Homo sapiens: one gene and its partner. The protein of the gene in region 2 interacts with the protein of the main gene of each other region in a biochemical or structural test. Each region holds a gene or a part of one and is shown on either strand. Other genes may lie near its edges. The genes, in order: NTAN1 and UBR2.

Region 1 (12,215 bases), on a different chromosome or scaffold from region 2:
CCCATAGAGAAAAATACTGGAAGGAAATTTCACCAGTACAACCATGGCTGTGCCAAAAAAGCAAACATGAGTGATTTCCTGTTGCTGTTGTCCTCTCTTCTCTCAATGTTCTATCACATAGTTATTGTTAGAATACAAAAACAAAATGGATAAGGCAAATTTACGAAAGGTATGTTAATACTAAGTGTCAATAATCTGAGTGTTTGTACACACTTATTTAGTAAGCTTGTAAAAAAAATTCAGTGGTTAAAAATTCAGTGGTTATTTAACAAAAACTTTTTCAAAATATTAAATTGATACAACACTACAATGTATCATAATTTCCTTCTTACTTGCAACAAACTCCTGGATGAACAAAATCTTCCTCAAATGTCTAGACAACGTATGTATGTATTGCCTACACAGGAAGACAGTTTTGCAGTCTTAGTCTTCTATCAGCTTCTTGCCATTTCGCATGACTGGTGCTAATTTAGGTTAGCGCTCACTTAATAAAACATAAGAGCAGCTGGGTGTGATGGCTCCCAACTGTAATTCCAGCACTTTGGGAGGCTGAGGAGGGAGGACTGCTTGAGCCTAAGAGTTCAAAACCAGCCTGGGCAACAAGGAAGATCCTGTCTCTACAAAAATTACAAAAATTAGCTGGGTGTGGTGGCATGTGCCTGTAGTCCCAGCTACTCTGGAGGCTCAGGTAGGAGGATCACTTGCAGCCAGGAGGTGGAGGCTGCAGCGAGCCATGATTGCACCACTGCACTCCAGCCTGGGTGACAGACCAAGACCCTGCCTCAAAAAAAAAAAAATTAAGATTAAACTAAAAGAAGAGATGTAATAAACATAATGATCAGCTTGATTACTTACATGGTGTTTTCTTCTGTTTATAAACTTCCATTAACTGGAAGCAAGGTATCAATGAAAATGAGACAAGCCCCTTAATTTAAGAAACAAACTAAAGATTAAATGAACTGCAGTGTAAAATTAGATGGGCAAGACAGCCTTGCTTGCTCCAGAAGTCAGTGAGAAACAGGTGTGACTGCTCTAAAACTCAGAACACCTGTACAGGTGACAGCCTCTCATTTTCTCATTCCACTTCTTGCCTCATCTTAGTTCAGAATAACAGGGGAGAATTCAGAATTCCCTCTTGATTACTCCTGAGATACTTACCTTCTGCTTTGTTCTTTGAGGGAAGGGAAGAGAAGGGAGGGCGCAAAGGCGAATTTTTAACACTCATGTTCACAATTGGGTCACCACTCAAAAGCAAAGCTATTTGTGAGAAATTAATTACTGCTTTCACAAAGACCAAAAATCATGTCTCTCTTCAACACAGCTCCTACGATTTCCCAAAGAAATAAAAGCAAAAATTATCAGAAGAGAGAATGCCAGAAAACTAAAACAGTAGACTGCTTTGCTCTATTTTTTAATTTCTTTTTTTAAACAGGGTCTTACTGTCTCCCAGGCTGGAGTGCAGCGGCGAGATCGTGGCTCACTGCAGCCTCTGGCCTCAAGCAATCCTCCCACCTCAGCCTCCCAAGGAGCTGGGAACTACAGGCATGAGCCGACACACCTGGCTAGTTTTTGTACTGTTTGTAGAGATGGGGTCTCCCTGTGTTGCCCAGGCTGGTCTCGAACTCCTGGCCTCAGGTGATCCTCCTGCTTCAGCCTCCTTTGCAGTAGCTGGAACCACAGGCGCACGCCACCACACTTGTGCTAGGATTATAGGCATGAGCCACTGTGCCCAGCCTCTACTTTATTTTTAATTTTTTTTTTTTTTTTTTTAGAGACAAGGCCTCACTCTGTTGCCCAGGCTGAAGTGCTGTGGCCAGATCATAGCTCACTGCAACCTCAAACTCCTGGGCTCAAGCAATCCTCCCACCTCAGCCTCCTTTGCAGTAGCTGGAACCACAGGCGCACGCCACCACACTTGGCTAATTTTTGCTCTTTTAAGTAGTAAAAAGAGTTTAGCCAAACTTCCCTTCTTTGGAAAACCACACAGTCCTACTTTATAAATTCATATGCAAGTAGTCCCAGTTTTCTTAACCTCTAATATGCTCTAGACACTAATATTTGCTTAAAAAAAAAAAAGCTTTTCCCTCAGTCCCTCATCCCTATTTCCCAGTTCCTATTCAATGGCAGTATTCTCTTAACCCAGTGACCAGCAGATTTTCTGAAAAAGGCCAGACAGTAAATATTTGGGGTTCTACAAGGCCGCAGTCTCTGTCACAATTGCTCAACTCTGCTGTTATTATGAAGTGAAAGCAGCCATAGACAATACAGATGTGGCTGTGTTCCAATAAAACTTTATTTATAGGTGACACCGAAGTTTTAATTTCAATACCATTTCCCATGTTACAAAATATTATTTTGATTTTTCTCAACCTTTGAGAAATATAAAGACCATTCTTGGCCTATAGGCTATACATAAGCAGGGTCCGGCCCATGAGCTGTGGCTTGTTGACCTGTGTCTTAGCCAATCACCTAGCTGTGACCTGGGGGATGATCATGTGACCCTCACCCCTGCTGTCCTGTTTATCAATTCTTCCTTTATAAACAGGAGAGGGGCATGAAGGTGATCTGTGAACTGTAAAGCACAATGCTATATAAGAAATTATGAGGCCCAACACACTGGCTCACGCCTGTAATCCCAGCACTTTGGAGGCCGAGGCGAGATGATCGCTTGAGGTCAGGAGTTTCAGACCAGCCTGGCCAACATGTTGAAGCCCCATCTCTACTAAAAATACAAAAATTAGCCGGGCATGGTGGCAGATGTCTGATACTCAGGAGGCTGTGGCAGGAGAATCACTTGAACCTGGGAGGCAGAGGTTGTAGTGAGCCAAGATCGTGCCATTGCACTCCAGCCTGGGTGACAGAGCAAGGCTCTGTCTCTCAAAAAAAAAATAAATAAATAAATAATAAAAGCAGGAACTAAGCTACGCTGCGAGCATCTTGTAGACTCTGTGGAACCGTATTACCCAAGATGTTGCAGGACTGGTTACCGAGTACCCAGTGACTGGTTAAGAGTGACTAAGGGAGGGCTCTAAACAGCTCTGGCCAAAGGAACTTCATGCTGGGATGGCCACCGTCTATATTCACACTGTCTCATTAGTAGCCATGCTGTCTGCTCGGCACTTGAAATGTGGCTACTGCAACTGAGGAACTGAGTTTCAATTTTATCTAATTTTAATTGATTTTTAAGTTAAATCCTAAGTAACCAGATGGCTCGTGGCTACTGTACTGAATAGCGCAGCTCCAGAGTCAAGGGCAGGCTGCCAGGGTTCCAATCCTGGCTTCACCACTCCCAGGATGTGGGGCCTGGGGCCAGTTTCCCAGCCTCTCTGTGCCCCACAGTCCTCATCTGTAAAATGGGAATAGCAGTAACTCTTGCTGTGGTGCTTGGCAGCTTCCACTGTATGACTTATTGTTATTATTTGCTAGTCATAGCTACACACAGGCTTCTAACTGTTGGTACTCCATACTCAGAACACATCGTTACATGAAAAAGACACATTATAAAACAACATATAGTAAGCTATCATTTTTTTAAAAAAAGTAAATTATATACAAAGAAAAACCTTCATTAGGACTTTCACCAAACTAAAGAATGGTTGTAGTCATACTTTTTTTTCTGTATTATTATATTTTGCTTTCCTACAAAGAGGACACCCTGTTTTATTATATAAAAATAATCCAGGCCAGGTGGAGTGGCTCACACCGGTAATCCCAGCACTTTGGGAGGCCGAGACGGGCAGATCACTTGAGGTCAGGAGTTCAAGAACAGCCTGGCCAACATGGTGAAAACCCGTCTCTACTAAAAATAAAAAAATTAGCTGGGTGTGGTGGCATGCACCTGTAATCCCAGCTACTTGGGAGGCTGAGGCAGGAGAATCGCTTGAACCTTGGGAGACAGAGGTTGCAGTGAGCCGAGATTGTGCCACAGCAATCCAGCCTGGGCCACAGAACAAAACTAAGTCTCAAAAAAACCAACCAACCAAACAAACAAACAAAAAACCCAACCTTTAATGTCTCCCTGTTGCTAAGTAGGTGAAAGGTCCATCTAAGCCCCTTGGTCATTTGGTCATCTGGGTACAATCCACCCCTGTAAGGTTACTTTCCATGCTTCCCCTCCTCACCCGGGCTGCTCCGGAGAAACTGGCCAGGACACCCACCCACTGGGCCCTTCCCCTCCTGCCCGCCGCGCCCCAGGCGGCTTGCCCAGCTGCGATGCCCTCACCCTTCTTCTCCTTTTCAAATCTCTCTCGTGCCTGCATCCTTCTTCACTTACACTGCCGCAAATCAAAGTGATCGCCCCCTTCCAAAGTTCCTGTAACACAAACTGGTCCCCAGTACACAGCCTTTCTAGGACATGTCTTCTTAAATAGGCCAAAACCTTCCTTCGAGAGAAGCAGCCCCGGTATGTCACCAAATCTCCCTCCACACTTAAGTGTGCAGCCCGGGACACCCATCTAACTTTCTATCACGGACATTTTCAAACAGACATAAAAGTAGAGCATCCCCTAAATTCTTCAGGCGGCTGAAATTATTTTTCCTTGGTGAGTCCTACTCTTGACTTCGCTAGCTAACAGGACAGTAACACAACGCAAGGATAAAGTGACACGCCACCACGCCTAGCTCGGTGCATGTTGGCTAACAGACGATGGTCGGTCCTGAAATGCAAGCTGAGAATCACACAGAGCTGTCTGCCTTCTCCCCGTCAGTAAGTCCTTGTCACCCTTCAGAACACGTTCAGGGGTCATTTTGTGACCTCATTTATGCAGCAAATCTTTACTGAGCGCCAATTCTATGCCAGGGACCGTCCTACACTCTGAGGATACAAAAGTGAGGACACTACTCTTATCTGCCTTCAGGAGGCTTACATTCTGGCGACAGACCAATAGAGAACAAACAAGCAAACAAAATAATCACAAACTGTACAGCTGTGACAGATGAAACCTCTAAATGCCTTCCCCAACCCAACACACTTGGTCAGGTTCCTGTGCTTCCCATCTCAGAGTGAAAGGGGACGCTTTTTCTTTATGGTACTTAACAGTTTATAGTATCTGAGCCTTCTTCATCAGAAACCATTCTCCCTTCTAGACTATAAACACTCCGAGGGCAGGGACAGTGATCAGTACGTTGCCCAACAGATATTAGGGGCTCGATATTTGACTCTCAAATCAAGGAACTGATTGATTCCCCTTTAACAGGATCTATGGCAAATAGGACGTCTGCCCCCGCCGCCACGCCCCGCTCTTTTTAAAACCTGAGAACCCCCTTGCCAACAGTCCCTGCATAAGCGTGGACAAGAGTTCAGAGATCTATTTGAGCACAAAAGCAGAAAAAACAAAAACAAAACCCGTGCATCAGGGCGTGGTCCTATGGCCCAGCTGCGGAAAGCAGGGCTCTCTCTCCCGGCTAAAAATAACTCGGCGCCCTACGCCCCGGGGGTAGGGGAGAGAGAGGAGGAAGGACTGGGGGTCCCCGCCAAGATCCCCCAGGCCAAACGCTCTCCGAAGCCCACCCTGGAATAACCTCCTGCTTCACGGGGACGCAAGGACGAAGCAACGTTCACCGCAGGCTGCGGGTCCCCGAAGGCGGGCGGCCGGATTTGCCTAAACGGACCCAGCCCTATGGGGGCTGCAGCCGCCCCGTCGGGGAATGGGGGTCCCGGCGTGTCCCCGAGCCGCAGTGCTGTGCGACCTTGGGCAAGTCACCTAACCTCTCTGGGCCCCCGTCCCCTCCCTTGTCAGAGAGTGGCCTCCGGGGCAGCCCGCTGAAGTCTAAAGAAGGCAAAAACTCCCCGACCCCTCAAGGGGAAGACGCGAGCCGACGGCCGGGGCTCCGGATGTGCCAACAGCGCCAAGTTTCAAGTCTGTGTCGCGTGAGGGGGGCGCTAGCCCGCCCTGCAGCTTCCCCTCGGGCCCGCCCCGAAGCCCCGCGCCGCGCCCCACTCACCTCCAAAGGCGGGTGGGCTCGGACGAGGTCCCCGGCTGACTGCGGCAGCCGCACTCGCCGCCCCTCGACGAGCAGCGGCATCGCGGAGGCGGCCGCCCAGGCAGGCCCAGGGAGGCGGCGGCCCCCCGCTTTGCAGCCCCGGGCCGCCCGCCGCCCCCGCCCCTCGGGCCGCGCGTCCCGCCTCGTCCTGCCCCGCCCCACCGCGGGCGCTGCCGGGAAGTGGAGTCCAGGCGGAGGCGGTGCCGGCCGAAGAGACTGGAGAAATCCAGGACATGGCCGCAAGGCCTCACGGGAAATGTAGTCCAAAGCCAGGAAGTGGCCCTGGAAGCAGCGCGCGGCCCGCCTCCTCCGCAAGGGGCGCTGGGAAGTGTAGTCCCAAAAGCGTGGGAGTGAAGGAGCGGGGAAAGGAGAGCTGCCAGGGAGCAGCTGCACCAGCCAAGAGAGCCTCCGGGCGAGTTCCTGGGGCGGGTTCTGGCTCCGACTGCTGCGCTTTAGGTCATTGCTCCACGCTTCCCAGGTGTGTGACCTTCCACAAGCTTGAGTTTGGGACCCTGCTGTGCAGCTCCGTAGGATTGCATTCAATGAGTAATAATAAACCTAATCAGGCGGGCACGGTGGCTCACGCCTGTAATCCCAGCACTTTGGGGGGCCGAGGCAGGAGGATCGCTTGAGGCCAGGAGTTCGAGACCAGCCTGGGCAACATAGTGAGACCCACCCTCCCCCATACCCTCGTCTCTGCCAAAAATTTAAAAATTAACTGGGCACGGTGGCATGCACCTGTGATCCCAGCCACTCTGTAGGCTGAGGCGGGAGGATCTCTTGACCCCAGGAGTGGGAGGCTGCAATGAGCTATGTTTGGGCACTGCAGAGGGACACTCTGTTTCTGAAAATAATAAAAATAAATGTAAACGGTCTTAAACTGAGAAAATAGATCCTGAACTGTGCTAGCCCCACGTACTAAAGAGATCATCGATTAACACGTCGTGATTGGAATGCAATAGGCCACTCACAGGTGGGCTGGGAACCGTGGGGGAAGGATTTGCGGATACTGACTGCAGAGCCCCTAATCTGAGGACAGGTCCCCAAGGTGAGAGGCGTCTCACCGTGGAGCTCTCTTCTAAAACTTGGAAATATTGCTCAAATTCATCCAACTCTGCAGCACATTAACAAAAAGTAATTTTACAAAAGATACAGAGGAGCCACATGATACAGCAGAAACTTTATTAGAATTTTATCATCTGTATTCATCGTCTTCTTTCATAAATCTCCCCCTCAGCTTACACACCCCGTTCAACAAAAATACCAGGAAATTTACTAAAGAAATGACTGTAGAAGATGGTGTTCCCATCGCCAGGTTACCCAACTTCTCACCCAAAATAACTCTATTTCTAGCTACCAGGAAATTATTTCTCTGTATTATTACACCTACATTTCTCATTTGTCCTTACAAATGTAGGAGCTACTATCAACACCTCATTTGTCATTTGTCCTCACAAATGTAGGAGCTACTATCAACACCTCCGTTATAACAGATACAGTAACTTGCTCAAAGTGGTAGAAATAAGTAGTAGAACGAAGACTGAACCTAGCTTTGCATGATTCCAAAGGCAGTGCTCTCCATCACTATAAGATGCTCCTAGACTGTACTGTAAACAACTCATTCTAATGCAGGTGACATTAAGTAAGTCCCAACTAGGAAGCTCGGAGCTAAAAACAGGGTTTGAAACCAGGGTGATCAATGACCAGCAGGCTGGCCTGGAGCAAGTTACTTAACTTCCCTGAACTGGTTTTGTAGAATAGCATGTTTGTTTCACCTGGTACATACTAAACACTAAAGATAGCTATTATTGGAATTGCAGAGCAAAGAGTAGTCAATCAAAGTGAGGCATTTGGAAGTGCAAAGGTGAAGAACAAGGTTCTGTGGGTTCTGCCTGGGGCTGGTGCAGTTTGCCTAACTGGTTTTTCACTTTTGGGTGATCTTTTTTCAAGTAATCTCAGGTTATCAATCTCCTAGGCTGAGTACTGTGTTAAAGGACTAAATGAGCCAGATAACAAGCAGGAAACCACTCCCCTACCTCTCTTCCCACCCAGCTCCACAAATTTTGGTCTACAGGCAATGAGGAAGCAATAGCAGGTGTGTGGCCAGCACTGCGGCTCATGCCTGTAACCCCAGCACTTTGAAAGGCCGAAGGAGGACTCACTTGAGCCCAGAAGTTCGAGACGAGCCTGGACAACACAGGGATCCCTGCTTCTCCAACAAATACAAAAATTAGCTGGGCATGGTGGCAGGCCTGTAGTCCCAGCTACTCGGGAGGATCAATCAAGCCCTAGAGGTCAAGGCTGCAATGAGGCACGACTGTGCCACTGCACTCCTGCCTGGGTGATTACAGCAAGACCGTCTCAAAAAAAAAAGAAAAAGAAAAAGAAAGCACTAATTACAATGTTGGAAAGCCTGTTTCTTTAAGATAGGAAACCAACCTGCCTCACAAGATGGCTGATGGCAAAGTTCAAAGAATATATACAGGGAAATATTTTTTAAATTACACTTTTTTGAGGCCAGACATGGTGGCTCACGCCTGTAATCCCAGCACTTTGGGAGGCCGAGGCGGACAGATTGCTTGAGGTTAGGAGTTCAAGACCAGCCTGGCCAACATAGTGAAACTCCATCTCTACTAAAAATACAAAAATTAGCCAGGCATGGTGGTGCGTACCTGTAGTCCCAGCTACTCAGGAGACTGAGGTGGGCGGATCACTTGAGCCCAGGAGGCGGAGGTTGCAGTTGTTGAGCTGTGATTGCACCACTGCACTCCAGCCTGGGTGACAGAGTGAGACTCTTGTCTCAAAAAAAAGAATGATGAACATTATACAGAACCTTAGTAAATATTTAGTGAAAGGATCCCAATTTGTGTTTCAAATTTTTTAATGTAGAGATGGGGGTCTCACTATGTTGCCCCAGCTGATCTCAAACTCCTGGCTTCAAGAGATCCTTTTGCTGGCCTCCCCAAGTGCTCAGATTACAGGCATGAGCTACCACACCTGGCCCCAAATTATTAGATACATTATAAATCCTACTCAACCATCCAGAGTCAGACTGAAACACACAAAAGCATTTGATGGAAGAAAACATGGTGGAGCTTTGGATGTTCAATTAGTTGAAACAAGAAAAGTATGCAGTTGTACACCAATGAACAGTTCTCAAGGCAGCCTGCACCTTCGAATCACCAGGGGGCTTTAAAAACCATCCATGTCCAGACCCCTCTTCTGGAGACTGATTCAATCAAAGGTTGAGTTGGTGTGTGACGTGAGCCTGGGCATCCTTAGTTTCTCAGCACTCCAAGGGACTGATTCTAGGGCACAGCCAGGGTTAAGAACCACCATCGTAAGCACTGCCCGGCAAGGGAAACACGCTGGTTCCTCCTCTCCAGTTCAGATCTAAGTTGGTACCAGGGAGGTAGGTATTATGGAAGAAATAGAAGTTATCTTTAACCAAAAAAAACTTCCCATGGAAGTGCTTCCTTTCTTGCAAGAAAACAACAGCCATTAACTTGTACATGCATCGAATCCTTAAAGCCTTACACTAGTATCTTATTCCCATTTTACAGTTTAATTAGCGCTCAGAGAGGTTAGGTAACTTGCTCAACGTCAAACAGCTAGCTAGGAAAGGAAGCCCATGGCACTTGGTAAGTTGACTTGTAAAAATTCAGCCACTTCTCATCAAGGAAGACCAAACCAGAGCACACAGACAAAAGGACAGACCCTGGAGACTCCTACAACTGACAGCTTTTTAGTGAAAGGAAAAATTCCCATTGTTGGCATGTAATTTATAAGGAGATTTCACAGTATTTTTCCCCATAGATGTCCCTTCAAAGCATGTAACTTTTTGAAAGAAGTGTCTGCTTCCCTTGGACCTGCTCAAGCCTCAATCACTCTTTGCTGGGTGTGATTAAGGAGAGTCGCGGATACTTCATATAGTGCACACGGAAACCATCCTCACCCCGGCATGCAATGAATTCCATCAAGCTCCCCGCCACACCAGCACTATTTCTCCCTCTTCAACAGCAATGCCTCAGGAGTTTTCCACTGCAAAATGCTTTAATACATTAAATTAAAAAAAAAAAAACAAAACAGAAATTGAAAGAACATGTATTGAGGTACCTTTTATTGGTATAAGAACGTAAGTTCCAGATTAACCATGTCATTGTTTCATTTTCACCATGGATTTTTTTTCACAAACTCCTTTGAAATTAAACAGACTTATATGTAAATGTCTTTCTACATTAAAACTACTTCCCAACCCACAAAGACCCCACTTACTACTAATTTCTGGGGAATTTCGTTTACTCGTTTTATCTAATATTAAAAAATCAACATTTTGCCAGCAGTTAAAAAGACAACCTTAAAGTTCTCAAATTACTTTCCACCAAACCCGGAAAAGAAAACCACCCATATCCAAAACTTTAAAGCAATAAAAATTTCTATTTTCCAAAAAAGTATTTACAGACTGAAATTCAAACTCTACATTGCCATCAATGTAATTATACAAGTGCATACAAAGCCCTGGAAAAGAGGAAGTATTTCATTACAAAATATTTATGATCAAGAAAATATTGCTTGCCTTTAAATAAAGTGGCAGAAAATAAATATGCTTAAAGATGGCCATTTTCACAAGTAAACAAAAAAGTACACATGTAAGAAACAAAGTGAAAATGCTTGAGCTTCAAAATGACTCTAGCAGTGTTTGCACAAATTTGTTTTAAAGCGAGGTCTTCTGAAGACTTCCTCTGTTTAGTTATAAAAATACAAAAAGAGGCTTTAGAGAAGGATTTCACCAAGCCGAATGTGCGATGCACACAGCCATCAGACCAAGACTGCACTAGCAACTTCCACCTATTGTTGTGAGCAAAACCGTACACCAAATAATCTAAAAAAATTTTCCTGTTTCCAACAAAGAAATTCCCAATAACTAAGTGATGCAGATCAAAACTGACTCGATCTAATGGCCACCAAGGAGCAGTTCTAGATCTAAGGGGACACTTGAGAGCCAAGGGGTCAAATCCAATCTCATGTGTTTTACACAAGCCCGAACTCACTTTCAGTCTGTGTGAATTACATCTACCTGGACCTCCATTTTTGTCTTTTAAATCCATTTTTTCGCTGTGCCAAGTATATTACACATCTGATTCTGTTTCCCTATATCCTCTCTCTCTTCCCTATGGGCTTTTATTGGTCTCTGAAGTCCCTGGAGATCTTCAGTGCCAGCTCCAACTCTGTGTCCCAGACCATGTCGGGCCAGCTCTCAGCTTTCCTTCTGTCTTCTCTACACTCCCTTGAAATCCCAACAGACAAATACCAATACAGCAGAAGGTGAACAATGTAGCCAAAATAAACACTTTCTAGTTAAAGTCTTTAAATAGAAGTTTTATCTTAGAGGATTCTTCACTGAAAGCTCATCAGTCAAGTCCTAAGACCATGGATCTGACAAAAACCCATGTTAAAACAGCAACCCGTAAAACAGTCTGCTGCCTATATTAGAAATTACCCAGTAATTGTGTCAAAAAGCTGTTAACACAAAAAATGTACATATTAAACAAGCAAATCCTTCCAAATGTATCATCAACCCCACTGTAAAAGATTGCACATGATAGTCTTCATTTTGTCTGTAAGGGGAACAACAACAACAAAAAAACCCAGTCTTCAGATGCTTGATTCAGTCGAACCTGGAAGTGCCACAGCCGAGGCAGGCACTCGCTCTAGTTCAATGCCATCAATGCCCAATGGCACAAGCTGGGTGCTGAGGGCATGACAAGTGATGGGGAATCCCAAATGTCACATCTCAGTCACAAATTTCTGCCGTCAGAGGGGACTGGGTTGCATGTACAACACGGGTGGGGAGCCCACACTACTTGAAGGACTTCGGAAATGCGTGTCAAAGGAGCTTGGTGTGATCCCAATCACGGTATCATTCTGGGGCACTTCGCCTTTCAGAAAGTCATCATCTTCATCTTCCACTATGTCCTGCAGAAACATCAGAAATCATCAGTAACATCACCAGTGCTGACTGAAAAGCTTTCAACAATTCCTTCCTCAGGAAGGTGTTAACGTTTGTAAAGATGGTGAAGAAAATATCTTAATTTCAAAAGAAAGCCAGTGTAGTGGCACACGCCTGTAGTCCCAGCTACTCAGGAGGTGGAGGTGGGAGGACTGCTTGAGCTCAAGAGTTCCGAATCCAGCCTGGGCAACATAGCGAGACCATGTCTCTAGAAAAACAGAAC
Region 2 (11,590 bases):
TATCATGAATAATGCTGCTATAAATGTGGGTGTATAATATTGATCTGAGTTCCTGCTTTCAGTTATTTTGTAATCTGTACCTAGAAGTGGAATTGCTGAATCATAAGGTAACTTTATGTTTATCTTTTTGAGGAACTGTCATGCTGTCTTCCGTAGTGGCTCTATCATTTTCTATATCCCATGCACAAGGATACCAGTATACCAGTTTTTCCACATCCTTGTAAACATTTGTAATTTTCTTTTTTTAAAAAAGTAATAGCTCACCTAATGGGTGTGAAGTGGTATGTCAGTGTGATTTCCCCAGTGACTAGTGATGTTGAGCATCTTTTCGTATGCTTTTTTGGCTATTTATCTTCTTTGGAGAAATGCCTATTTAAGCCCTTTACCTATTTTTTAATTGGGTTTTATTTTTGTTGTTGTTGTAGGAATTCTGGATATATATAGTCTGGATTTTTTCTTTTGATACAGGGTCTTGATCTGTCATCCAGGCTGGAGTGGAATGGCATGCAGCTCACTGTAGCCTCGACCTCCAGGGCTCAAGTGATCCTCCCACTTCAGCCTCCTGACAGGTACATGTCAGCATGCCTAATGTTTAAATTTTTTGTAGAGATGGGGTTTCGCCATGTTACCCAGGCTGGTCTTTCTTTTTTTTTTTTTTTTTTTTGAGACGGAGTCTCGCTTTGTCCCCCAGGCTGGAGTGCAGTGGCATGATCTCGGCTCACTGCAAGCTCCGCCTCCCGGGTTCACGCCATTCTCCTGCCTCAGCCTCCCGAGTAGCTGGGATTACAGGCACCTACCAACACACCTGGCTAATTTTTTGTATTTTTAGTAGAGACGGGGTTTCATCGTGTTAGCCAGGATGGTCTCGATCTCCTGACCTCGTGATCCGCCCGTCTGGGCCTCCCAAAGTGCTGCGGATTACAGGCGTGAGCCACCGCGCCCCCGCCCCAGGCTGGTCTTGAACTTCTGGGCTCAAGTGATCCTCCCACTTCTGCCTCCCAAAGTGCTGGGATTACAGGGGTGAGCCACTGTGCCCGGCCTATTCTGGATGTTAATCCCTTATCAGATATGTAGTTTGCAAATATTTTCCCCCGTTTTGTGGACAGAACAGCCATATATTTAACTCAGTCACTAACTTGACATGATTGACAGGCCAATTTCTCTAGACTTCACTTTTCTCAAATATAAAGTTGAGGGTATTGGACTAGATAGCCTTAAGGGTTCTTTCAGCTTTAAAAATCTATGAAAAGCTGAGTGTGATGGCATGTGCCTGCAGTCCCAGCTACTCAGGAGGCTGAGGTGGGAGGAATGTCTCAGCCCAGGAGTTCAAAGGCAGTCTGGAAAAAATGGCAAAACCCCATCTCTTAAAAACAAAAACAAGAAAAAACCTATGGAAGAGAGTCCTTAACAAGTAAGTTCATGTAAAGAAATCAACATTTCTACCACTATTCCCCTTCCATGCAAATTTGTTTATGCTATTCACTAGCTTGGCAAAAAGTTTACTGAAAAGCCAGATCCTTAGCTAAAAAGGCCTACTCATAGGCCAGGTGCGGTGGCTCACACCTGTAATCCCAGCACTTTGGAAGGCCGAGGTGGGTGAATCATTTGAGGTCAGGAGTTCGAGACCAGCCTGACCAACATGGTGGTCAAAGAACTAGCCAGGCATGGTGGTGTATGCCTGTAACCCCAGCTACTTGGGAGGCCGAGGCAGGAGAATCCCCTGAACCCAGGAGGTGGAGGTTGCAGTGAGCCAAGATCATGCCACTGCACTCCAGCCTGGGTGACAGAGCAAGACTCAGTCTCAAAACAAAAACAAAAACAAAAACAAAACAAAACAAAACAAACAACAACAAAAGGCCCACCCATTATAGTTTGAATTATTTGTGTTGAATTCTACCAGGGTCATTACTTGAGAATTTTGCTACATATGTGATAACTAAAGTTTGGTTCCATAGAGCTATTTAATACAACAAAGAAAAGTATATAATCATTACCTTTCAATCAGTGAATTCATTATCTCACTATTTTCTTGAAAAAGGCAAATGAGGTTGTTTGGTAGGGAAAGATAGCTACATAAATGTTCAAAATGGCTTGTTCCAGGAACTGCAAATGAAGAACAAGAAAAGAGTGCATATAACAACTAAGGGCATATTCTGCATGAGAGTTAAGCAATAGCAGAGTTTAAAAAAAAAGGATGAAAGACTTCCAATTTGCCAGGTACGTAACTTGTAGGAAGTTAACAGAATGGCACATGGAAGGAATCCATGGAAAATGACGCAATGCGTCAAGTGCAGTCAGGCGACTCCTACATCAAACTGGTCCCAATGTCCTGGTGTCTCGGCTTTATCATTTGCAAAATGGTGTGCCTGCACAATCTACTGCACAGGGTTATTGTGAACATTAAATGATAAAAATGTATGGGTGCTCTGGAAAAGGATCAACCAATACAGAAATACAAGATGGTTTTACCACGAGACACAGATTTAAATACCAACTCTAATCATCACTGCAAATAATCTGGAAGACTAAACTCTTTTATATGGTTCCTAGGCAACTAGCTAAATGGAAATGCCAGTGGACAAACTTTCAGAGAGTAGCACTGCATGCAGGTACTCTACGGCCAGTGCCAGGCACTGTGGGATACAGAGATACAGTCAAGTCCACATTCATACTACTTTTATGAAATGAATCAAAACAGAACATGGAAAACAACTATGAAAGAGCAAATCAATTCCCAGATTAAAATCAGATTTATGTGCAATTATGGGTATTCTAAATTTTAATGCTATGCATGTTTCAAGTTAAAAATCACTTGAAATTGTCAGTTTTCACCTTTTCAAATCTGAGGAACCTTGTTTATGAATAATACATAACTGAACATTTTAACATCTGAAAGCAAAACTATGATCTTTACGGGAGAAGGGCTTTGCAGGTGTAAAAACATTTACACAGAAGTTTAACAGTCATTTACTGAGATCCAAATAAATGGAGACATATGCATAAACATACATTTTATGCTATAAATGTGTACATCACCATAGTCAATAAGCTATTCTTTGAACTTTTAGTCAATTTTCATTTTTGCAAGTGATCTTTATATTTGCTGGAGTAAAGGATTACTAACTCTCCCTACGTTTTGAAAGAAAGTATAAATTACCTTGAATGTCGGGTGGGGAAGGAACTCCATTTAAGTAATGAAAAAATAAAGCAGAACACTTCAGGAAAGGCATGATTCCAGCTCTGACACTCCTCCACAGATGCCAGCCGGATGGTATTTCTTTCAAGGCACTAAAAAAGAAAAAAAAGATTATTGGGAAATCTACTAAGAAAAGGTCACTGTACTTATAGTGTGAAAACAGACTTGACTGTCATTTGGAACTGATGGCATGTATGCTTAAAAGTTGTGAGTTAACAGGCAAGTGGGTGTGTGTTATTATAGGATGCCAGGTGTAAGTGGTGACACAGCCTCCAATGCTGTTATTAAATTTTTTGAGACGGAGTCTCGCTCTGTCGCCCAGGCTGGAGTGCAGTGGCACAATCTCGGCTCACTGCAAGCTCTGCCTCCTGGGTTCACGCCATTCTCCTGCCTCAGCCTCCTGAGTAGCTGGGACTACAGGTGCCTGCCACCACGCCCGGCTAATTTTTTGTATTTTTAGTAGAGACGGGGTTTCGCTGTGTTAGCCAGGATGGTCTCGATCTCCTGATCTTGTGATCTGCCCGCCTTGGCCTCCCAAAGTGCTGGGATTACAGGTGTGATGTTATTAAAATTTATAAAAGTAACATAGTGACATAAAGAGAAAATGTGGAAAATGAAAAGTTGTCCAGGCTGGACTCAAACTACTGGGCTCCAGCAATCCTCCCACCTCAGCCTCCTGAGCAGCTGGGACTACAGGCACATGCCACTGCACCCAGCTCCTAGGAGCCATATTTTAAATAGATTTATAATATTTTGGAACACATTCATCACTATATCAAACTATTCCCCTGCAAACACTTAGATTGCTTTCAATTATTTGCTAATATAAATAATATCAGAGTGTACATCTTTTTCTTTTTGAGACAGGGTCTCACTCTTTTGTCCAGTCTGGAGTGCAGTGGTGTGATGGCTCACTGCAGCCTTCACCTGCCTGGGTGATCTGACTACCTCAACCTCCTGAGAAGATAGAACCACAGGCACATGCTACCATGCCTGGCTAATTTTTGTATTTTTTGGTAGAGACAGGGTTTCACCATGTTGGCCAGGCTGGTCTCAAATGCCTGGGCTCAAGCAATCTGCCAGCCTCATTCTCCCAAAGTGCTGGGATTATAGGGGTGAGACACCGTGCCTGGCTGGAGTGTCCATCTTTATATGCCTATATGTTTTTTTTCTATATGTTGAATTATTTTGTTAATGTAGGTTCTCAGAAATGGGATAGTCAAAAAACAGACATTTTTATAGGTTCCTGACTACAGATTCTTGACATATATACTGTTGAAAGCTAAGCAAACTACTGAATTGCTATTTGTAGCAAATCATGACTCTAACCATACATGGAATTCTAATAATTTCATTTTATTCCTGCTACTACTGAATATTACCTTAAAAATAAATTATGCCAATTTAACTTGCAGTTTTAAATTCCCATTCTGAATGAGACAACATAAGTTTTAGAGTATCAACTTTCCAAAGTACATTTGATCTATCCTCTAGTCTCTGCCAGATCCCTGAGCAAATGAAGGGTTCCACAGCCAAATAAATGTGGGAAGCTCTGCATATTATCACCTTTCTCCCAGATTTCCAATTATGTTAGTATATGAATAGTTCAGAAAGGCTCTGCAGATCACTCCACGTCTTATTTTAAAAACATGTCAACAGACAACAAATTCCCCTAATTAACAAACGAATTCCTTTCTCATGCTATCATCATCTAGCAATATTTAGGGAAATGCGTTATGTAAAGATAACTAACTCACCTTCCCGTATACTGGTGAAGTGTTTTATACAAAGCAAGAACTGCTGATTCTTCTTCACAAGGGGGATTTTCTTGATCCATGCCATTCTCTTCTGAAAGATAAGGAAATACTAGTACTCTGTATTTTCCAATTAAGTGTTATCAAAAGGACTGAAGACATTAAGCATGCAAATATATTCATAAACTCACATATAACATGAAGTATTCCTAGAAAACATGCAAAATTGTAATCCCTCAAGTGGGAGCACAGTATTGATCTCAATCAAACCAAACAGCCAGCTGGCATGTTTTAAGTAAAATCAAATAAATATAGTCTTAAAGTGTATGAAAAACAAGAATTTTGAATGCAAAACGTAATTTAATGATGAATTCATGTGGGCATTAACAAACATGTAAGTTAAAACAAAATTGGCATTCTAAAACATAAGATTCTAAAAGATTTAATTACTATTCTACACAAATATTACTGAATGTATGAAATTAAAACTAGAAACATTCACATTACTAGGAAATTTTAAGAGGAGAAAGAAATGTTTCAAAACTTTTCATATGAAGATACACAGAAAAAAACAGCCTTATTCATGTGTTATTCTCATCCAAATACCTTTTCCTCTAATACTTTTTTTAAAACTCAGAAAACTCAAGTATTTCCTTCAAGAAACTGACAAAAAGGCAAGAGTTACCTGTACATGAGGTAAGTAAGATCTGTATGATGTGTGCCATAGTAACCAGATGGAAAATGTGAAGGTCTCCAGTGCCAAGGCTGATCCCTGAAAAATCCTGACACTGCAACGCAGGAAATGCAAGCACCAAGCCCACCTAGGCACCAAACACAGGACATCAGACAGATCGCCTTTCCTTTCACAGCTAAGCAAATTTCCATCTTCTTACTTTTACTTTTATTTTGATTTTTTTTTTGAGACAGAGTCTTACTCTGTTGCCCAGGCTGGAGTGCAATGGCGCAACCTCGGTTCACTGCAACATCCACCTCCTGGGTTCAAGCGATTCTCCTGCCTCAGCCTCCTGAGTAGCTGGGATTACAGGCGTGCAACATCATGCCCGACTTTTTGTATTTTTAGTAGAGATGAGGTTTTGCCACGTTGGCCAGGCTGGTCTCGAACTCCTGACCTCAGGTAATCCGCCCACCTCGGCCTCCCAAAGTGCTGGGATTACAGGCGTGAGCCACCGCGCCTGGTCACATTTCCATTTTCTTACTGTGATCCCTCCTGAGTTCAGCTCCTCCCTTTAAGAAATCTTTGTTCTTAAAGAAAGGGCATCCATGTTGGAAAATCCAATAGGACTGGCTACATGAAATGACTTGAGTTACAGGACTCTTGATGGGCACTATGATTTCATTAATCCAGTGGGTCCTCTATACATAGCTTATTGTTAACAAAAACAGTATCTGAACTCTCTCCAGGACTGTAGGCAGTTGAAAAAACATGGGTTTTGGACCCATAAATATCTAGATATGAATCCTACCTCCTCCTCTTATGAGCTGTTTTACACAAATTAATATCTCTGATCAGGCCTCAGTTTCCCTATTGGTAAACTAAAGACAATATGTTACATGTAAATTGTAGAGATGTAAGTGTGAACGTATGTAAAAGCTGGCAGGTACACAAATGCTAGCTCTGTTGGCCTCCTGCTGTCTGCATGGCAGTATAAGTGGTGGTGGTTTTAGTTGCAGCAATGAGAACAGTAATAGCCGCATTTATTAGGAATATATTGCTCTAAGTGTGTTACATGGATTAACTCACTGAGTTCTGACATAGTCATATAAAGTAGGTACTAACCAACTTAAAGGGGCAGAATCTGAGGTCCAGAGAATAAAGGCACAGCACTCGGGGCTGCTGGGTGTGGCAGTACACTCTGTACCCTGTGCAAGGGAACCCAGTTGAGGTAGGGCTGAAATTTGGCTACCCACTATTTGGACAGCTGTGTGTCTTAGCACTAGGATGTCCTGGCTCAGAGGACATACCTTTCCCTGAATTATAAGGGGCTCTCTGCTGCTAAGTAGTGTGACCACAGGGCTGTATCTGCCAGATTTTCGAAAATGTACAAAAGCACTGTATGGGCCAGCAGCAGTGCTTCTGTTGCTGTTTTTTTTTTTTTGGATGGGGTCTTGCTCTGTCATCCAGGCTGGAGTGCAGTCATGCAATCTTGGTCACTGCAACCTCCGCCTCCTGGGTTCAAGTGATTCTCCTGTCTCACTTTCCTGAGTAGCTGAGATTACAGGCATGTGCCACCACGCCCAGCTAATTTTTTGTATTTTTAGTAGAGATAGGGTTTCACCATGTTGGCAAGGCTGCTCTCAAACTCCTGACCTCAAGTGATCTGGGGTGAGCCTCGCAAAGTGCTGGGATTACAGGCATGAGTCACCACACCTGACCCGTTGCTGGTGTTTTTATCTCTTTACAGGTTAAAAGCACAGAGAGGTTAAAATACTAACCTCAGCCATAAAGCAAAATAAGAGTCAGAGGACGTCTCGATAACCAGGTCAAGTCTCTCAACTAGGTTCCTAAATATTTTCTTTTTGAGGTTTCTCATAAAAGAATTATACTCAGAAGGGGTAAGGAAATCACATAACTCCTTCCTGTCTGCCACTACACTGCTCACCAAACCTAAGGTAAAGTTACATAGTATGACGTAGAAGTCCAAACAAACTGCACAATACCCACCAATAAATGAAACATGTCAATATCTAATATGCATGGAAGTTCCTCATGGCTGTCATTAGGCACCAGTGCTACAGATTTAAAGAGAAATACATTAGCATATTTCATATGCCAACATGTTAAAATGCATATAATCTGCTTTAAATTTATCTTCTTGCAAGACACATGAGAATTTATAAGCTAGAGCTTATATATAAGAAAACCAGTACTACTAAATATTTAATTCATTACTGAGAGAAGCTGTACCATTAAAAACAAAATTTCAGAGGATGAAAAATTACAACATGTTATAAATGTATTAATACTCACATGCAAAAAGTTTACAAAAATGTCCTTGCACCACTGAAACTGATGCCACTGTCCAGTGTGCTGCGGCAAATCTCGTCAATGACCTAAGACAGTCATCCTAAAATAAACCAACGCAATTAACAAAAAACAAAAATGCAAAGCAGTTCTCTTTCAGGAATGCTAGTTCAGAGCACAGCTGGATGCACAATGAAACTGCTCTAGATGGTATGGAACTAGATCTATGACATCTCAATGACATGCCTCTAACACAGGATAAATGGAATGGGAAATGTCTAAGTGTGTGCTGAATAAATGAAATCTATCTCTTTGCCACCATGTTGCTGGTTTTCTCTGGAAAAGAAAAGAATATAGAATATACGCATCTGACAGAAAGCAAGGGACACTCCCAAGATGCCAGTGCAGGCCGGGTGTGGTGGCTCACACCTGTAATCCCAGCTACTCGAGAGGCTGAGGAAGGAGAATCACTTGAACCCTGGAGGCAGAGGTTGCAGTGAGCTGAGATCACACCACTGCACTCCAGCCTGGAAAACAGAGCGAGACTCTATCTCAAAAAACAAATAAACAAGCCAAGATGCGGATGCAGTATTTCTCTATGTTTATCCTAAACAGATACCCTAAAACACATATCTCTTATGTTTATCCTAAAGAGATCCTCTAAAATGTGGATACTCTTCCGTAAAATGTAGAGTATCCTAAAGAGATACTCCAAATATTGGGGAAACTGTCTAAGAAGATGGTGGTACAAATGAGGGTGCCTGCAGCTATTAAAAATTGTTATGAGGACTAAGTAGCAGTAATAAGAAAACTCTTGATTTAAAGAATACAGCAGAAACAAAGCTACATGTGAGTACCAATTGTAATCAAGCATAAATATGCTAATGGAAAAAGATGGGTATGTGATAAGTTGATGACTTTTTTCTTCCTGCTTGTTTTTTCATTTTCCAAATTTTCTGTAATGTTTGGTTCAATAAATATTGAGGTCCTACTATATACACTAGGTCTTGGTTCTGAAGATCTTCAAATAAAACCCATTCTCCCCCTCCTGCTCTCAAAGAGCTTAAAGTCCTGGGGTGGGAAAGGAAGAAAGTGGGGAAGGAGGCAGGCATCACAGATGAGAGGTCTCTAACTCACAGTACATGGTTCAGAGGGCTTTCTAAGGGAAGGGAAAGCTTGAACAGCATCTGAAAGAGTAGCAGTCTGCTTAGGGTACTCTAGGCAGAGGAAATGGAATGTGCAAAGGCATGGGAACTAGCATTGAGGAACTGGCAGTGATTCTACAAGTCTGGACCACAGGGGTGGGAACTGGCAGGAGGTGATAATGGAGAAATAGGTTAAGAAGTTTGTAAAAGTATGAAGAATATGAACAGGATTGCTTTTGAGGAGCCCCTCTAATAACGTATTAGAGAAGAGTGAGATTCTGGGTAAAAACTGCTATGATAATCTAGGCAAGAAATAATATGGGGCTGAACCAAACAAGTAGAAGAAGGAATGGTGAGAATTTGTCAGACTCTGCTGACCAACTGAATGTGAATGCCCAGGCTAAAAAATGTATCTAGGCCGGGAATGGTGGCTCATGCCTGCAATCTCAGCATTTTGGGAGGCCGAGATGGGCAGATCACCTGAGGTCAGGAGTTTGAGACCAGCCTGGCCAACATGGTGAAACCCCATCTCTACTAAAAACGCAAAAATTAGCTGGGCACGGTGGCATGCACCTGTAATCCCAGCTACTCGGGAGGCTGAGACAGGAGAGTCGCTTGAACCCAGGATGCAGAGGCTGCAGTGGGCCGAGATTGTGCCATTGCACTCCAGTCTGAGCAACAGAGTGAGACTCCATCTCAAAAAAAAAAGACTTCAATTTTCTGGTTTCTCCTGGATGAATAGTGGTGAAATTAACTAAAACAGGGACTATAGGAAGAAAAATTAATTTGGATTGAATTTTAGGTATGTGTAGGAGATCCAGGTTAAAAAAATAGGCAGAGATAACCTACACCTAAGATAAAGATCTGGGTTGGAGATACACAGGTGGGGATCATTTGGATATAACTGAAATCAGAGGCATAGATGGGGCTGACCAGGGAAGAGTATTAGATGGCAGAACTCTGGAGGTTTAAAAATGACAACTGCAGGATGGAGGAGGGAGAGTGGGCTGAGAGGCAGGAGCCACAGAGGCAGAAAGAAAGCCAAGAGTGTCACAGAAATTAAGGGAAAATTGAGTTTCAGAATGAAGAAGGAATGGAGAGAAATAAAAGTTTCAGAATGAGCAATTAAGTAGAGGTTTCAAAGACAAGGGCTAAAAAATGCCCACGCAAAATGATAATCAGGAGATCATTTGGTGAACTTGGAAAGAGATATTTCATAGAAGTCAGAAAGTGTTAGAAGTGGAGCCAAACTGCAGGAGTTGAAATATGAATGGTTAGCAAGAAAGTGGAGCTAGAATATACATTCTTCTGCTTCTTCTTCTTCTTTTTTTTTTTTTTAAAGATAGGATCTTGTGCTGTTGCACAGCCTAGAGTACAGGGGCACAATCATGGCTCACTGCAGCCTCAACCTCCCCAGCTCCAGTGATCTTCCCAACTCAGCCTCTTAAGTAGTTGGGACCACAGGTACATGCCACGCCACCACTCCTAGCCAATTTTAAAATTTGTGTAGAGATGAGGTCTCACTATACTGCCAGGCTGCAATTTTTTTTTTTTTTTTTTTTTGAGATGGAGTTTCACTCTTGTTGCCCAGGCTGGAGTGCAATGGCACAATCTCAGCTCACCGCAACCTCTGCCTCCCGGGTTCAAGCGATTGTCTTGCCTCTGCCTCCTGAGTAGCTGGGACTATAGGCATGCGCCACCACGCCTGGCTAATTTTGTGTTTTTAGTAGAGACGAGGTTTCTCCATGTTGGTCAGGCTGGTCTTAAACTCCCGACCTCAGGTGATCCTCCTGCCTCGGCCTCCCAAAGTGCTGGGATTACAGGCGTGGGCCACTGCGCCCGGCCTCCTGAAGTTTATTTAAAAGAAAGATTAAACCACAAACATTACTTTTTAATATCCTTACAGAAAATGGGTTTTTACTACGAAAGAAGTGAAGGTGTAAGTAACTACTGCAGGTCCATAAGATTAAAAGCAGCAGAACCACCTAATTTCCATGCCCCACTATCATGAACTGAATAAACTGAGAACTTACCAGTCTGCAAGGTAAAGGACCAAACAATGGTTTATCTTCATCACTCAAAATTCTTTCTACAGATTAAAGATGGTTAAAATGGTAAATGTTATGTTATGTATATTTTAATATAATTTTCTTAAAAAGGTTAAAAAAACCCCAATCCTACAGAAAGTACAATATTGTCAAGTTTCAGAATCTTCAAAGTCATTTCACAAGAATTAAATTTGGTTACAAAGTAAAAACGAACAGTACATTCCTTCAACTGACAAGAAGCTATAACCACCACCACCAAGAGTTCTCTGTTGCTGTGGTTAATTTATGAACTATCAATCTAGTATTTTGTCAGTACATTACATTTCTTGCTTCTAAGTCTTTTTATTATTTCTTCACGTTGTTACCCACTTCAAACATTTCATTTAAAAACAAGATTCTATGCCTAATTCATATCAATGAATGCTTGTGACTTATAGAGAAACAGCTGTAAATCTCTTACCTAT

The links.
Region 1: the proteins of UBR2 (region 2) and NTAN1 form a complex in vitro, tested with the Homo sapiens proteins (one study listed by BioGRID).

The regions. Positions count from the first base shown.
Region 1 is NC_000016.10:15,049,948-15,062,162, forward strand, and holds the start of NTAN1 (protein N-terminal asparagine amidohydrolase), read right to left. Parts: upstream 6,128-12,215; 5' UTR 6,025-6,127; coding exon 5,944-6,024; intron 5,868-5,943; exon of another isoform or gene 5,708-5,867; intron 1-5,707. Other genes in the region: RNA polymerase I-specific transcription initiation factor RRN3, read right to left, coding at 11,797-11,958. UniProt on the Homo sapiens protein: N-terminal asparagine deamidase that mediates deamidation of N-terminal asparagine residues to aspartate. Required for the ubiquitin-dependent turnover of intracellular proteins that initiate with Met-Asn.
Region 2 is NC_000006.12:42,670,237-42,681,826, reverse strand, and holds part of UBR2 (E3 ubiquitin-protein ligase UBR2), read right to left. Parts: coding exon 11,587-11,590; intron 11,168-11,586; coding exon 11,112-11,167; intron 8,037-11,111; coding exon 7,940-8,036; intron 7,702-7,939; coding exon 7,634-7,701; intron 5,772-7,633; coding exon 5,636-5,771; intron 5,045-5,635; coding exon 4,954-5,044; intron 3,289-4,953; coding exon 3,158-3,288; intron 2,104-3,157; coding exon 1,995-2,103; intron 1-1,994. UniProt on the Homo sapiens protein: E3 ubiquitin-protein ligase which is a component of the N-end rule pathway.